Linked DNA regions of Homo sapiens: region 2 is linked to region 1. A link means that fine-mapping ties the variant in region 1 to the expression of a gene that starts in the linked region. Tissue or cell type: whole blood. Region 1 holds a variant in brackets; the other region holds the start of a gene. All regions are shown on one strand. Distances are from middle to middle.

Evidence for each region. PIP is the estimated chance that this variant, and not a neighbour inherited with it, causes the effect.
Region 2: ADD1 starts here. The variant in region 1 is fine-mapped to the expression of ADD1 in whole blood (TOPMed, PIP above 0.99).

Annotation. Positions count from the first base shown.
Region 1 is chr4:2,924,978-2,933,152 of GRCh38, forward strand. ADD1 (adducin 1) reads left to right here. Exons shown (of 16, transcript NM_001354761.2): 15 at 1,037-1,135; 16 at 3,194-5,085. The coding sequence ends at 3,546. It overlaps SLC75A1 (solute carrier family 75 member 1), which reads right to left. Exons shown (of 13, transcript NM_001146069.2): 4 at 8,129-8,175; 5 at 7,623-7,781; 6 at 7,374-7,535; 7 at 7,068-7,176; 8 at 6,848-6,959; 9 at 6,578-6,686; 10 at 6,398-6,488; 11 at 6,250-6,297; 12 at 6,084-6,173; 13 at 5,590-5,976. The coding sequence ends at 5,861. Among named protein-coding and RNA genes, the nearest start is that of SLC75A1, 5.8 kb to the right of the region's middle. RefSeq lists enhancers at 1,173-1,688, 6,829-6,898, 7,319-7,368, 8,089-8,175. The variant T/C (reference allele first, on the strand shown) is at 4,539.
Region 2 is chr4:2,839,333-2,847,507 of GRCh38, forward strand. It overlaps ADD1 (adducin 1), which reads left to right and starts at 4,512. Exons shown (of 16, transcript NM_001354761.2): 1 at 4,512-4,692. It overlaps SH3BP2 (SH3 domain binding protein 2), which reads left to right. Exons shown (of 13, transcript NM_001122681.2): 13 at 1-1,764. RefSeq lists an enhancer at 3,284-3,795 and silencers at 3,924-3,973, 4,074-4,453, 4,514-4,703, 4,824-4,973.

The DNA.
Region 1 (8,175 bases):
GTGAGGCTCCTTCAGCAGGGCTGTGATGGCAGCTGAGTGGATGGGGACAGGCTCTGGCCGTGCTCTGTGATCACAGAGCTGTCAGCAGGAGAACCCACAGGAGGTCTGATCTGGCCCTTGGCATGGGCTGAGGGGAGAATGTGCCACAGGTAAAATGCAGGCTGGCTGCCAGAGGTCAGCACCTTTTCCCGGTTGAGGCTGTATGCTCACTCAGCTAGGTGGTATGGCGGCCTTTTTATGGACACCTGGCTTCTGGAAGGTAGCTGCCAACGTGGTACTTGGGGAGGCGAGCCAGCTGTTAGGGTGGGAGCAGAGGCCCTGGGAGCTCAGAAGGATGATGATAGCTGCTGGTTCAAAATACGGACCTGCTGATCCTAAGCTATTAATCTTAAACTTCTGAAATAAAGACAGAGATGGAAGGAGTTAGAATAGTGCTGGTCCATATTTTCCCCGAAATGAGAAGTAGACTTGGAATCCTTTTCTATATCCAGGATCCTAGTTCCTGCATTTTTTCCTCTGGTTCTTATTAGCATTTTTCACTTTAAAAAGTAAAAATACGTATTACAGTTGCCAAGTTTAAATTATTGGGATAAAATGCCCTACCACAGAATTAAAACCAAAATAATGCTCATGTGATGTCCCTTAAGGTGGTGAGTGGGTTCAGGACCCTCAGCCACCTGCTCAGCAGGGAGAAGGCAGGGAGGGAGGGGTCCCTACTCGCACAGGACAGCGGGGGACAGGCCAGGGCATACCATTCGAGTCCATCACAGAAGTGGCTCTGGCAGACTCTCTTTGGAATAAGAATAGAAATAAGTTTTGTATCTGAAGTTGGTTAAGTTTCTCTGAAATTCGCATCAGTCAACACCCAGGTCACAGCTTCCTTTATCCTCTCTTGGAGAGGATCAGGGAAAGGGTTGAGAGAGCCCTGCCTTCTCAGAGGGCGGCCGAGCGGGCTGCCCCATCTGCCATGGAGGCAGGTACAGGCTCATGGCGTGGCGTCCACAGCTCCTACCATATCCTTCTTGCTTCTCTGCAGAGAATCTGGACGAGGCTAGAGAACAGAAAGAAAAGAGTCCTCCAGACCAGCCTGCGGTCCCCCACCCGCCTCCCAGCACTCCCATCAAGCTGGAGGAAGGTGAGCTCTGGGTGGCAGCGGCCGCCACTGTGGGAGGGTGCACGGCTCGTGCGCGCTGTGGCGGAATGTGGCGGGAGTCGTGTTAACAGCAACACGGAAGTGTGTGCTTGCATCAGCGCCAGGACGTGACACCTTTCTCCTCCTATATTGCTTCTGTCCTGGGTAACTCCAGGCAAAACAGATTTGTATGTGAGCTGTGACCAGGTAGGAAGGCCGGCCTCGGGGGTCGGAACCCACCATGGTTGCTGGTGTCCACGTTGCCCATTGCTCGCACACTCCTCGTGCCGTGTTGTCATGCAGATGCCACCTTCGGAGGTGCCCTCCGCTGTGTGAGCCACACGCCGGCTGCCTCTCAGCCACCGTGTGTCTGTGGTGTGTGATCCCGGGTGTCTGTCCCTCGGTCTCGTACATCCATGTCTCTCGTGAAGCCCGTGGCCCTGCCTTTCTTCTTCTGTAACCTGATGGCTGTGACTGAATGCATAGATTCTCTCCTTGTGCTTTTTTCTCCCTGTGGCTGCGTCACAAGCAGGAGACGGATGCGCTAGAGAGTACCTGTTACCCTAGTAAGTACCGTGCTGCCTCCGCTCTCCACCGGTGCCCTGCGCTTTGCCTCATTCTCCTGCTTCTTTGTTGTTTATTAAGTTTTGTTTTCTGTTTATTTAAAATAAAAACAGAAGCCCCCCTTTTTTGTACCCAGTCCCTTGGAGGCCTTCCTGGAAGTGGTTCAGTCACCTGAGTGCTGTGCTGCCTTCAGCGGCAGCGGGTACCTCCACGCACCTAGGTGCCATGGAGCACTCTGGGCCTCAGGAGTTCCTACCTCCAGCCTTTGAGGGTCTCTTTGGATTGCTTGGTGGGAGGGTTTTGCCACACTGGATCAGATGTAAGTGCAGCCTCGGTTCAGACAGGGTGGGGTTCTGCCACCTGCCGTGTGGGGTCAGATTGCCTTGGACCTTTGCTGAAGCTGGTCCAAAGGAGGTGGGCAGAGGAGCGGATATTGGACCCTCGTAAAGCAGTGTGATGTTCACTCAGATGATGGCAGCTCTCCAGAGCGAGTGCCCTGGGGCAGCCTCCGTCCTAGCATCAGCCACACCATGCCCAGCAGAGCGGGCCCCATCTCCTCAGGGGGAGCGGCGCCTGTGTGCCCATAGCCCTTTCCCGGTTCTCATGAAGCGTGGCCTGGAATTAGCCTGGGGCAGCTGGCAGGGTGGGGGTGCTTCCAGCTTCCCAAAGGTAAAGCACTGAGAGTTTGGGGCCTGGGCCTCCTGTGCTGCTCCTAACCACTCAGCTGACTCCCCTGGCCCTGATGTGTGGCTTGATTTTTAAACACTAAACAGCTTGTGGTGCCTAACCTGTCAGTTGCTGGTAACTTTGTAGGCCGTTTACGAATGGACAGAGCGGGTGCCCGGGTAAGTGCAAGGAAGGCGCCCCCAGGCTGTGTCCTCAGGGCCGCTGTGCTCCTTCACAGATGGCCACTCCTGATGCTGGGTGGAGTTTTTGCCCCCACTCCTTGCCTTACAGGCCATCTCTTTCCTTTTAATTAACTTCCAGCCTAAACGGCTTTGTTCTTTTGGATGTTGACGTCACACAACGTGCTGTGGGAGTTATGCACGATTTTCTACTGGCTGTTTTGGGGGAGACCAGGTGTTGTAGACCCAAATTTAGACTTAATTTCAGTACTACTAGTACATGCCCTTAGGGTGACAGGGCAGACTTCTCGTCACATAATGAAAGCGGGACGTCGCTCCTTTAGTCGTCCTCAGCTTGTGCTGCAGTCTGTCTTTCCGGCGGGGGGACCCAGGCCTGGGACGGAGTCTGGTGTTGTCAGCACACTGCCCACCAGAAGGAGCTAAAAACTACCCCGAGACTGAGTCTGTATTTTATGATATTAGCTCCATCCAGCCGTACAGTAGAGTAGACCATATTTTAAGTTTCTTGTCTTGGTAAAAATCTGTAGAGTAAAATAAAATGGCAGTTTCGTGTGTGGGGCTCCCCCATCTCAAGCTGCCCTTTGAGATCTGGGCAGGAACCCTTAATCCCATCTCTCACCTCACCCACTAGACCTTGTGCCGGAGCCGACTACTGGAGATGACAGTGATGCTGCCACCTTTAAGCCAACTCTCCCCGATCTGTCCCCTGATGAACCTTCAGAAGCACTCGGCTTCCCAATGTTAGAGAAGGAGGAGGAAGCCCATAGACCCCCAAGCCCCACTGAGGCCCCTACTGAGGCCAGCCCCGAGCCAGCCCCAGACCCAGCCCCGGTGGCTGAAGAGGCTGCCCCCTCAGCTGTCGAGGAGGGGGCCGCCGCGGACCCTGGCAGCGATGGGTCTCCAGGCAAGTCCCCGTCCAAAAAGAAGAAGAAGTTCCGTACCCCGTCCTTTCTGAAGAAGAGCAAGAAGAAGAGTGACTCCTGAAAGCCCTGCGCTAACACTGTCCTGTCCGGAGCGACCCTGGCTCTGCCAGCGTCCCCGGCCACGTCTGTGCTCTGTCCTTGTGTAATGGAATGCAAAAAAGCCAAGCCCTCCGCCTAGAGGTCCCCTCACGTGACCAGCCCCGTGTAGCCCCGGGCTGACCCAGTGTGTGCTCAGCAGCCCCACCCCACCCTGCCCCTTGTCCTCTCAGAGCCTCAGCTTCTGGGGGAGACATGCTCTCCCCACAGGGGGGAGGCACTAAGTCATGGTCCTGGCTGGAAGGTACTGAAGGCTTCTGCAGCTTTGGCTGCACGTCACCCTCCTGAGCCTCACCTTTCCTGCCGTCCCTCCTGTTGTGAAATCACCACATTCTGTCTCTGCTTGGCTTCCCCTCCACCCTAAAGTCTCAGGTGACGGACTCAGACTCCTGGCTTCATGTGGCATTCTCTCTGCTCAGTGATCTCACTTAAATCTATATACAAAGCCTTGGTCCCGTGAAAACACTCGTGTGCCCACCAGCGGCCTTGAAGAGGCAGGTCTGGGCCAGATGCTGGGCAGGAAACCCCAGCGGCAGATGGGCCTGTGTGCACCCAACGTGATGCTATGCATGTCTGACCGACGATCCCTCGACCAGAATCAGATTCAGGAGCTCAGTTTCTTTTTCACTTGGGTCTCTGGATTCCTGTCATAGGGAAGGTATATCAGGAGGGGAAGAGGCCTTTCTAGAATTTTCTTTGAGCAGGTTTACAATTTAGCTTACATTTTTCGACTGTGAACGTGAATAGGCTGCTTTTTGCTTTCTTCTTTCCAGACCCCACAGTAGAGCACTTTTCACTTATTTGGGGGAGGCTTCAGGGGACTGTTCTCACCTTAACTCAGCCAGAAAGATGCCCTAGTTGTGATCAAAGGTAACTCGAGGTGGAGGGTAGCCCTGGGGCCCCTCGACATCACCGTCATTGATGGAGCCTGAACCGTGTGCTCCTCGGCAGATGCTG[T/C]TGTTGTTACTTCCCTCCAAGAGGCTGGAAAAGGGCTCAGAGCTGCTGAGCAGGAACCGGAGGGTGACCCATTTCAGGAGGTGCCGGTACCAGCCTGACTAGGTACAGGCAAGCTTGTGTGGGCCCAACAGGCCCTTGGTAGAGCTGGTGCCAGATGTGGGCTCAGATCCTGGGCATGATGGGCCGAGCCACCTCGGATCCCACTGATTGGCCAGCCGAGCGAGAACCAGGCTGCTGCATGGCACTGACCGCCGCTTCCAGCTTCCTCTGAGCCGCAGGGCCTGCTACGCGGGCAAGCGTGCTGCCTCTCTTCTGTGTCGTTTTGTTGCCAAGGCAGAATGAAAAGTCCTTAACCGTGGACTCTTCCTTTATCCCCTCCTTTACCCCACATATGCAATGACTTTTAATTTTCACTTTTGTAGTTTAATCCTTTGTATTACAACATGAAATATAGTTGCATATATGGACACCGACTTGGGAGGACAGGTCCTGAATGTCCTTTCTCCAGTGTAACATGTTTTACTCACAAATAAAATTCTTTCAGCAAGTTCCTTGTCTAAATCTGGGAAGCAGTTTTATATTTTAATTTCTTTGTTCCCATGTTTGTCTCGTGCTGAAAAGAGACCTCCTAATGTTCATGTCTTGATAAAATGTCACCTGCAGCCACGCGTGCGGCAGGACGTGCCACCCAGCACTCCTGGTGTCCCTCTCCACGGGAACTCAGGGTGTCCAGGGAACTGCTGGCCTGTCCTTGTCCCCATGGTCCCAGTCTCACTGTCACTGTGTGCTCATGTTTGATGGGGAGGGCTCTGTGCTGGGGACATCCTGCCAGGGTGCGGGGCACACTGCCAGATACCACCTGGCCAGGGCTGACCCCAGCCTTGGAGGAGCCTGCCTGAGTGAGTCCCCAGGCTGCCACTGTGCAGAGGGGGAAACTGAGGGTCTCAAAGAGCCTTGGACCCTTCCGGTCAGTGGAGCCATTCATTCAGCTCCAGCTGCCTTTCCTGGTGTGGGTAGAAGCACGGCTATATATGGCGAAAGGCACTTGGTATAAAACAAACAGGTGCTTTATTTCATCATCAGAAACCTGGTGCATAGTTTAAAAAACAAACAGAAGCCCTGACAGCCTTGGAGTGCTGCAGCTCGGAGTCACTGAAGGAGTAAGTAAGTCTGGAGGAGCTGCCTGAGCTTCCTGCTTAGGGGCCGGCCCCCACCCACAGGGTCTCCCTGGACTGGCGGGGGGTGGGGGTCAGGCAGTGGGCAGGGGCCTGACCTAGGCTCCCACTCTGCCTGGTGCCCACAGCCTGGGCACAGTGGCTCAGCTACTCAGCCTTGAGCGTCTGTGCCGGGTAACTCAGCTTCTGCAGGAGGAAGAAGGGGAGCAAAAAGAGCCCGGACCACGTGGTGAAGCAGGCCTGGGCCCCGGCCAGCCAGTACACTGCGGAGAGACGGTGGCGTCACCCAGTCCCCGAGGGGGCTGGCACTTGGGAGGCGAGGGCAGGTGCTTGGCCCCCAGCCTGCCCCAGCACCATCCCGCGCCCTCACCTGAAGCGGCCACCAGGGGCCCCGCGGCCCTGGCCAGAGCACCTAGGCTGCGCAGTGTACCCATGACCGTGCCCTTCTGCCCTGGTGAGCCTGTGGGAAGAGGCACAGTCAGGCACCACTGCCCTTCTCCCGCTCAGGTGGCTTCGGCCGAGGGAAGGGGGCTCACCATAGCCAGCGACCACGGAGGACAGGCAGGGCACCACAACGGCGGCGGCTGGTGGGAGACATCGAGGAGGTGCCCGTCAGCCCAGGGGAGGGTGCATCACCCAGCCCCTGCTGCCCATCGGATCCCCTGCCAGGGCAGGGCCACTCACCAAAGGAGTAGAGCAGCAGCCCCAGGCCCAGCACGGGCAGAGAACGTCCCCAGCCGATGAGGAGGAAGGCGGGCACCAGCAGCAGGAGGGCCTGCAGGTGGGCACGGCAGCCTCAGCACAGCCCGTGCCCTGCAGGACTCAGGGGACTGCCTGCCACCCGCTTTGGAGGGAGCCCCCTACCCGCTTCACGGCAGCAACTTCCCCGCCAGGGTGGATCCGCCGGGCATAGGCACCCTGGATGGTGGCCATGGTGAGGCCGATGAGGAAAAACATCTTCCCCTGCTGTAGGCTGGGAGCGGGTGTGTTAGTGCAGGGCACCCGGGGCAGGGCCACCCAGGGCAGGGCCAGGGCGAGAGTGGCTGCCAAGGCTTCCTGGGGATGGGGGTTGCTTCCCTGAAGCAGGGGCGTTATTTCAGGGAGACAGCAGGCCGTCGCCAGATGGGGACCCACCTACTGAACTGGAAGCGCTGGTGTGTGAGGAAGCTCAGCGTGTACTCCAGGCCCGAGAACAGGAAGAGGTAGAGGAAGTAGACTAGGCCCAGGCGGCGCAGGCTGCTGAGCCCTGGGGAGAGGTGGCGCGTGCTGAGAAGGCGACCACAGCAGGGAAGGGCGCCGCCCGGGGAAGCCCAGGGGAGAGCAGGCTCCACGCTTGGGTTGGTCGAGTCCTTACTGTCTCCAGAGGGTGGGTCCTGGCCACGAGCGACAGCCGAGAAGCGCAGCAGGGCCAGGGGGCTGAGCAGATCAGCCGCATCACGGAACCCCAGGGCGATAGAGGGCGCCTGTGGGGATGGCATTGGAGAGCCTGCAGGAGCGGCTGCTGGCCTGGCAACCCACGGACTGTGGCCTCAAGGGTCCCAACACCAAGAGAGCGGCCCAGCCTCCCTGGCATCTGGGGCTGGCACACAGGGGCACTTTACATCGCTATGGAATCAAGCCTCCAGCCCCTAGGCCTGTGGGTCCCAGACCACAGCCCTACCCGTTTCTCCAGGGGCAGCGTCTCTGGCAGGAAGCAGAAGATGAACAGCAGGTCGGAGGCTGCGAAGAGCAGGGCAAACCAGGGTGCCATTTCCAGGGGCAGGGAGGCTCCGAGCATAGGGCCCAGGGTGAAGCCCAGTGAGAAGGCCACCCCAATGACCGCCTAGGGAAAAGACCACCCGAGCTGCACAGGGAGACCCAGGCCCAGAAGTCACCACCAGGACCCCAAAGGCCCAGCCTGTGCACTTACCATGCCTTGACTGCGGGCCAGAGGCGAGCCCAGGTCAGCAACGATGGCCGTGGAGAGGCTGACGTTCCCTTTGCTGATGCCCCCAATCAGCCTGGAGGCCAGGAAGGCCGCAAAGCTCCGAGAGGTGGCCCAGACTGCATATGAGGTGGCCACACCCATCTGCCCAGGGGCAGGGGCCAAGAGGCAGGGGCGGTCGCTTAAGGCCAGGAGTGGCTCAGAGTAGGGCTTGGCAACCCAGACAACACCCCTCAACCCTGCCCTATTTCGAAGCATCTGAGGGCCACTTGCGTTCTCAGTGCCTTCCTAGGGGCCAGGAGCAGCTCCTTGAAAGCCTGGCTCTGGAACAGGAGCCACTGGTCCCCCGAGAACCCCCTCCAGGATGCGATGAGGGCCAACCAGTGGCCATGAGGGGCCCACAGCCACCTCCCTCTCCCCACCTAACCCCATGGGGCTACTGGCTGGGTGGGAGGAGGCTTCCCCATGGGCACCCAGGCCCAGGAACATACCAGGCACAGCAGCATCACCGGGCGCCTCCCCAAGCAGTCAGAGGTGG
Region 2 (8,175 bases), 86 kb before region 1:
TAATTTTTTGTATTTTTAAGTAGAGACGGGTTTCATCATGTTATGCAGGCTGCTCTCAAACTCTTGAGCTCAAGCGATCTGCTGGCCTCAGCCTCCCAAAGTTGGGATTATAGGCGTGAGCTACCAGATTTTTTCTTATTAATCTAATAATTCTTTGTATAGTCTTGATATTATCCATAATGTGTATTGCAAATATCTTCTCTAACTCTGGCTTGACTGTTTATGGTGTCCTTTTTTTTTGGGGGGGGTTTTTTGAGACAAGGTCTTGCTCTGTCACCCAGGCTGGAGTGTTATGGCACAATCTTGGCTTATTGCAGCCTCAATTCCTAGGCTTAAACAGTCCTCCCACCTCAGCCTCCTGAGTAGCCGGAACTACAGTCACGCACTTCCATGTCCAGATAATTTTTTTTTTTTTTTTAGAGATAGGATCTTACTATGCCCCAGCTGGTCTCAAACTCCTAGACTCAATGAGCCTCCCATCTTGACCTCCCAAAGTGCTGGGAGTACAGGCATGAGCCACTGTGCATGCCAGTTCTTATTTTTAATGCAGTTGAATTGATCAGTGTTTTCATTTTGGTTAGTGCTTTTTGTGGCTTAAGAAATTCTTTCCAGGCTGGGTACAGTGGCTCACACCTGTAATGCCAGCACTTTGGGGGCAGAGGCAGGAGGATTACTTGAGCTCAGGAGTTTGAGACCAACCTGGACAACATGGCGAAACACCATCTCTACAAAAAATACAAAAATTAGCTGGACATGGTGGTGCGTGCCTGTAGTCCCAGCTACTCAGGTGGCTGGGGTGAGAGGATTGCTTGAGCCCAGAAGGTCAAGGCTGCAGTGAGCTGTGATTGTGCCACTGCACTTCAGCCTGTGAGACAGAGTGAGACCCTATCTCAAAAAAAACCAAAAAAAAAAAAAAAAAAAAGAAAACCACTGAAATTATTTCCACTCCAAGGTCATGAAGATAGTCTCTTAGATTATATTCTGAAATCCTTATAAATGTAAATTTCATATTTAGGCCTTTAATTCACCTAGATTTGGTTTTTTGCATATGGTGTGAGGTAAGGATTCACTTTCATTTTTTTCTCTCCATAGGGTTACACACCTGTCCTATCATTGTTTGTAATCTAACTTTCTGCGCCCATCTGCAATGCCACCTCTGTCATATGTCCACATATGACATATGTAGATCTGTTGTTGGATTCTTTCCTCTGTTCCATTAGTCTGTCTGTTCTTGTGCCAATATCAAGCTGTCTTCATTATTATCAATTATGTATTGAGATCTGATAAAGTAAGTCTTTTCCACCTTATTTTTCTTCTTTGAGAGTGTCTTGACTATTCTGGCTCTTTGTATTTTCATGTAAGGTTTTTCTCCCATATAAGTTTTAAAATCAGCTTGTCAATTCCAACAACAATGATGCACTTGATAGTTTGGGAATTTATTATAGCTATCAATCAGTTTTGGGAAAATTGACGTCTTTACAATATTGAGTTTTCTGATTCATGAACATGGTTTACCTCTCTTTCCATTTGGGTCTTCTTTAAGGTTTACCAATAGGATTTTATATTTTTGTCCATTGTGGTCTTGCTTATCTTAAGTTTGATTTGTAAATATTTTATGTTTCTTTTAGTCTATTGTAAATTGTGTATTTTTAATTTCATTTTTTTTTTTGTTAATAGCATATAAAACACACCTTGTCTTTTAACTGGAGCATTTTGTCCATTGTGTATTTAATGTAATTAAATCTACCATCTTATTTTATGCTACATATTGTCTCACTTGTGTTTGTGTTTTCTTCCTCCCTTTTCTCTCCTTTTCCCCTTCTTTGAGATTGAGCAACTTAAAACAAATCATTTCATTTCCCCCCTTCTCCTAGTTAGAAAGTTAAACACTCTCTATTCTTACTGAAGTCTAGAGTTAACTAATAAATACTTTTATCCTCCTCCTGGACAACATAAGGACCTCAGGTGACTTTCATTGGTCTCCCTCATTACTTGATATTATTGTTGTATATATCTAATTCTAACTCAATGTATTTTAAAACTCTCACCTAAGACCGTATTTGTTTTTTTGTTTTTTTTTTTTTGGAGGCAGAGTCTCTGTCACCCAGGCTGGAGTGCAGTGGCGCCATCTTGGCTCATTGCAACCTCCATCTCCTGGGTTCAAGCAATTCTTGTGCCTCAGCCTCCTGAGTAGCTGGAATTACAGGTGCCTGCCACCAGACCCAGCTAATTTCTTGTATTTTTAGTAGAGACAGTGTTCTGCCATGTTGTCCATGTTGATCTCTTAACTCCTGAGCTCAGGCAATCCTCCCGCCTTGGCCTCCCAAATTGCTAGGATTACAGGCAAGAGCCACCACGCCTGGACCTTTTTACTTTTTTGTAGTTGGAAAAGGAAGGAATATTTTAATAGCTTTAAAATTGTTTTATTATGATAAAATTTTCATATTATAAAGTTTATCATTTTAATTATTTTAAAGTGTACAGTTCTGTGGCTTTGCGAATATTCATATTATTGTTCAGTCATCACCACCATCCATCTCCAGAACTTTTTCATCACCCCAAGCTTAAACTCTGTACCCATTAAACACTAAATCCCCATTCCTCCAGCCCTTTGCAACCACCATTCTACCTCCTGTCTCTCTGAATTTGACTACTCTAGACACCTCATACAAGTGGAATCATACATTTATCTTTTTGTGATTGGGTTATTTCACATAGCATGTCTTCAGTGTTCATCCATGTTGTAGCATGCGTCAGAATTTCCTTTCTTTTGGCCAGGCATCGTGGTTTATGGGTTTATGCCTGTAATCCCAGCACTTTGGGAGGCTGAGTTTGGATTTGGGAAGATTGCTTGAGCCTAGGAGTTTGAGACCAGCCCTGGCAACATAGTGAGATCCCGTCTCTACAAAAAATAACAAAAATTAGCCAGGCATGTTGGCACGTGCTGGTAGTCCCAGCTACTTGGGAGGCTGAGGCAGGAGGATCCCTTGAGCCTAGGAGGTCAAGGCTGCAGTGAGCCATGGTTGCAACACTGCACTGCAGCCTGGGCGACAGAGACCCTGACTCCAAAAAAAAAAAAAAAAAAAAAAAAAAGGCACAAAACCCCAATAAATAGAATTTCCTTCTCTGCATAATGCTGCTATGAACATGGTACAAATAGCTGTTTTCATTTCTTTGGGGTATATATCCAGAAGTGGAATTGCTGGATTATGTGGTAATTATGTTTAATTTTTTGAGGAACCACTCTACGGTTTTCCACAGCAGCCACACCATTTTACATTCCCGTCAGCGATGCACAAAGGGTTCCAATTTCTCCGCATCTTTGCCAACACTTATTTTCTTTTTTTCCTCTTCTTCCTCCTTCTCCCCCCTTGAAACTTTTTGTTTTCTTCTCGTTTTTGTAGAGAACAGGGTCTCCTTATGTTGTCCAGTCAAGTCTGCCAACTCCTGGGCTCAGGCTATCCTCCTGTTTCTGCCTCCCTAAGTGCTGGGATTTTAGGCTGAAGCCACTGCGCCCAACTCCCTGCTTCTTCAACTGCCATCCTAATGAATGTTAAGTGGTATCCCACAGTGGTTTTGATTTGCGTTTCCCTAGTGATTAACTATGGGAAGCAGAAGTGAATGAGACAGAATTGTGATCTTGTCAGAAAAATCGTCTTGGAAAAGCCAACGTCCAACAGAAATGGTTAGAACAGGGGTCGCTGGCTTCCATCCAGACAGTATCCCTGACCCTTGTTGGGGCAATGTCACAGAGGCTCCTGCTGAGCAGGGAGGTCTGGATTCCACACTCTTCTGCCACTGCCCAGCTCTGGACCTAAGCTTTCTATGGGTGTCAAGAGGACAAGCAGCCGTGCCCATTTGTCTCGCTGCTTGTTTTTTTGGGTGTCAGATGCGCCAGCAGGAGGGACAGTGTGCGGGAAGGTGCTGGTCTGAGGCTGGTCCTGCCAAAGCCCCGCAGGCTCACTCCCTGGTCGTGCGGAGGTGGCTGGTGCTCGCTGGTCTCCTCAGCACCCGCAGGCCGGGCCCGGGGGCCAGGCAGTTGTCCTCTGTGGAGCCTTATCGGGGCCCACAGGCCCTGCTGCCTTGACCCCACCCGGGCCCCAAAACTCGGCCTGGGGACTGCACAAGGCGGGGCTACGCGGGGCAGGGCCCGTCTGCTGGGGGAGTGCGCTGGGCGGCGGCGGGAGGGCAGGGTCCCTGGGCTCCGACAGCCCCTCCGGCGGAGGTCAATCACAATGAAACCGTGTCCAGCGGACCCGGCAGGGGCTCGCCGCAGTCTACCTGGCCACCGTGAAGCCATGACCTGGCGCCCGAAGCTGCCGGCCGGGGTGTACTCCGCGCGGGACCCTGGGCCTCCGCAGGCCCCGGCGGGGTCGCCCCGAGGCGGGCCTGGCGAGTCCAATCGCCCTGCCCGCAGGGGACCCGCCCCTCATGGGTCCCGCCAATCGCAGGGTACGTTGCTCGGCAGTGCTGCGCGGCTTGGCCTATGGGACGGCGCGTTGTTGGGCTGCAGCGCCGCAGGCCGCACCCAGGTCGGGCGGTGGGGGCGAGCGGAGGGGCTGAGGGGCGGAGAGGCCTGGCGGGCCGCTGCTGCGGGCCAGGGGACGGGGGCGGAGCCGGAGCCGGAGCCGACGGGCGGTGGCCGCACTGGGACCCCGGAATCCCGCGCGCTGCCCACGATTCGCTTCTGAGGTGAGGCTAGCTAGCGGGGGCGGCGGGGGCCCGGTTCGGGCTGAGGCGGCGGCGGGGGCGCGGGGAACTGGGCCGCGGTTGCGGCGGGCGGGGGCCGCGGGGCCTGCGGCGGCCCGGGCAGCCTCGGGGGCGGGGAGGCCGCTGCGGCGCCGAGGGCGTCTTGGAGGGGTCCCCGCGGGGCCTTCGGCCTGGGCCGAGCCGGGGAGCGAGGGCGCCGCAGATCTTTCATCGGGATAGGACCCCGGGGACTAGGCTTTTCCCGGGCCGCTCGTTCCTGGCCGGCTTGTGGGCTGCAGGGGTGGGGGCGGAGGAGGACGACCCTGGCTGGACGCTGGTCAGCATCCTGCTTGTGAGACCGGTTCCGCGGTCCGCAGCGCTGGTGGCTGCAAGGTTTGTGTACGGACGCATCTGTCGGCTCTCGTATTTAAAAACGACGGCTTCTGCCAAAAGAGAAAAGCCATATCTGCCGACGGACGCTCGAGAGATAATCGTGGAACTTTATCAGCGATGGGGCTGTTGGTCACCTTTGCCCTCCCTCTCTTTTCTTTTTTCTTAATCTTTTATTTTCGTTTTTTGGGAGATGTCAGAGGGCCTTTCCCTGTTAGGATGACTTTTATCTTTGCTCTTGTAATGGCTCAAGATAGTTGGGAGGTAATTTGCATTCACTTTATGCATACCCACCTTGAAAAACGTATTTTGGTTCGCCTGAAACTGTTGTTGGTTTGAGCATAATTTATGTTTAGAAAGACAAAAAGCAATTGTCATATCTCCAAAGACCAAAGACATAGCTGATAGCTGTATGCATTACTGGTAAGTTAAAGAAAGATTTTTTGTGTGAAAAATTGACTGAGATCTTAATGGGGATAGGAAATAGAATGCTGATAGGTCGACTGTGTCTATGAGTAGAGGCGCCTAGTGAAAACAAGCTTGGAGTGGATGAGTAGGAGTTCAACAGGCACCAGAGAGAGGAGGGCATTTCAGGCAGAGGGTGTGAATTGTATGAAAGTGAGTTTGTAAACTTTGGAGCCTTGAATGGACAAAGGCCCGCGATGATACCTTTTTTTTTTGAGACGGAGTCTCGCTCTGTCGCCAGGCTGGAGTACAGTGGCGCGATCTCCAGTCACTGCAATCTCCGCCTCCCAGGTTCAAGCAATTCTCCTACCTCAGCCTCCCGAGTAGCTGGGACTACAGGCGCGCGCCACCACGCCCAGCTAATTTTTGTATTTTTAGTAGAGACGGGGTTTCACCATGTTGGCCAGGATGGTCTCAGTCTCTTGACCTCGTGATCCGTCCGCCTAGGCCTCCAAAAGTGCTGGGATTACAGGCGTGAGCCACCGCGCCTGGCCTACGTTAAAATTTTAATATACTCCTTTGATTTTGACAGTGGAGAAAACTAGAATAGTAAAGTTGTCTTTTCAGGAAGTGGATGATTTGGGCAGTCAAAACTGCTTTTCAGAGTTTCGATGTGGTTTACAATGGTATGGACAGCTGGTATGATTTGTTAGTTTTCTACTTGTGGTGTCTTTAGGTTTTAAAGTTTCGGAGAGTCGCTGAGTGATGTGAGTCTAAACTCTAGCCAGTCCCCGAATTGTGAGATAGTTTTCCTTCTAAAATATACTTCGTACAAGCTGGTCATTTTTCCCCTTAATTCTTTTGATGTTATCTGATATACTGAGAAGGTTTTGTTTGGTGTTCAGTTTTGTGTTACTGATTTTGCCATAAAAACTGTTTATTTACATGATTTTTAGTTTTTAGTTCTTATAGTCTTTGAATTGAATAAGAAAAGTAAATACTGAAATGCTTTGAAAGATAACAAAATATTTACTTATTGCTTGAAACTTAGAGTTAGATTGACTGCCCTTCCTTTCTTTCCTTCCATGTTTACCTCTTAACATATACACATATGTAGAGAGAATAGTATAAACCCCTTTTCTCAACCAGTTTCAACAGTCAATCTTGCTTCATCATATCCCCGCAGTCCTAGATATCCTTTAACCGTTAAATAGTTCAATATGTATATCTTAAAGACTTAAACAAAAGGTAAACATGAGTACCACTATCACAGAAAATGAATAATTCCTTAATACTTTCAAATATCCAGCCAGTGTTAAAATTGTCAGAATTCTCATTTTTTTTCTTAACAATTTCAATCGATCCACATGCTATCTATACAGTGTGACTCATTTTAATTGATAGTTTCCCCTCCATATTTAGTTTTCTCTTGTAATTTATTTATGGATGAAACCTGGTAGTTTGTCATGTGGAGTTATGCACAGTCTCAATTTTACTCTGTGGCATAGTTTCACAGAATTTACTGAAAACTGGTGGTTAGATCTAAAGGTATGATCAGATTCAGCTTTACTTTTGTCAAGCAAACTTCTTAGGTAAGTAGGCAGAAATGATTAGTAGTCTTTGTTCGCAGCCCTTGATTGTCAGTGCCTACAGTCATTTCAGCAAGCATTGAATATATTGATATTTGAATTCTATAACTTCTTTTATTAAATAGAATATTTTTATAAAGATAATTTTTCATGCCTCCACTATTTGGTTATCTTGAGGTATCTCTTACAGAAAAGGGAGGATAAATGCTTAATTCTTCTCCATTATTTACTAGGTTTCACATAATGAATTGTTTCGCTAATATCCTTCAAAAGTAGCCAATGAAGCTGGGCATGCTAGGATGGGCCTGTAATCGTAGCTGCTCCTGAGGCTAAGATGGTACGAACCTGTGAGCCTGGGAGGTCGAGGCTACAGTGAGCCATGATCACTTCACTGCACTACTCTGTCTCTTTAAAAAAAAAAAAAAAAAAAAGCCGAGCGTGGTGGCTCACACCTGTAATCCCAGCACTTTGGGAGGCCGAGGCGGGCGGATCATGAGGTCAGGAGATCGAGACCATCCTGGCTAACATGGTGAAATCCCGTCTCTACTAAAAACGCAAAAAATTAGCTGGGCGTGGTGGCGGATGCCTGTAGTCCCAGCTACTCGGGAGGCTGAGGCAGGAGAATGGCGTGAACCCGGGAGGCGGAGCTTGCAGTGAGTGGAGATCGCTCCGTTGCACTGTAGCCTGGGCGACACGGAGCGAGACTCCGTCTCAAAAAAACAAAAACAAAAACAAAAAACAAGCTAGGTGCGGTCGCTCACAATCCCGGCACTTTGGGAGGCTGAGGCAGGTGGATCGCCTGAGGTCAGGAGTTTGAGACCAGCCTGGACAACAGTGAAACCTCATCTCTACTAAAAATACAAAAATTAGCTGGGCATGGTGGTGCATGCCTGTAATCCCCACTACTAGGGAGGCTGAGGCAGGAGAATCGCTTGAACCCAGGAGGCGGAGGTCGCAGTGCCATTGCACTCCATTCTGGGCAACAAAAGCGAAACTCCGTCTCAAAAAAAAAAAGGAAGTAAGACTAGGATTCTACTCAACCTTCTCATTTTTATATACCTGTATCTACTTTTCTTCTAAGCCAAACATTTTGGTTCTACTT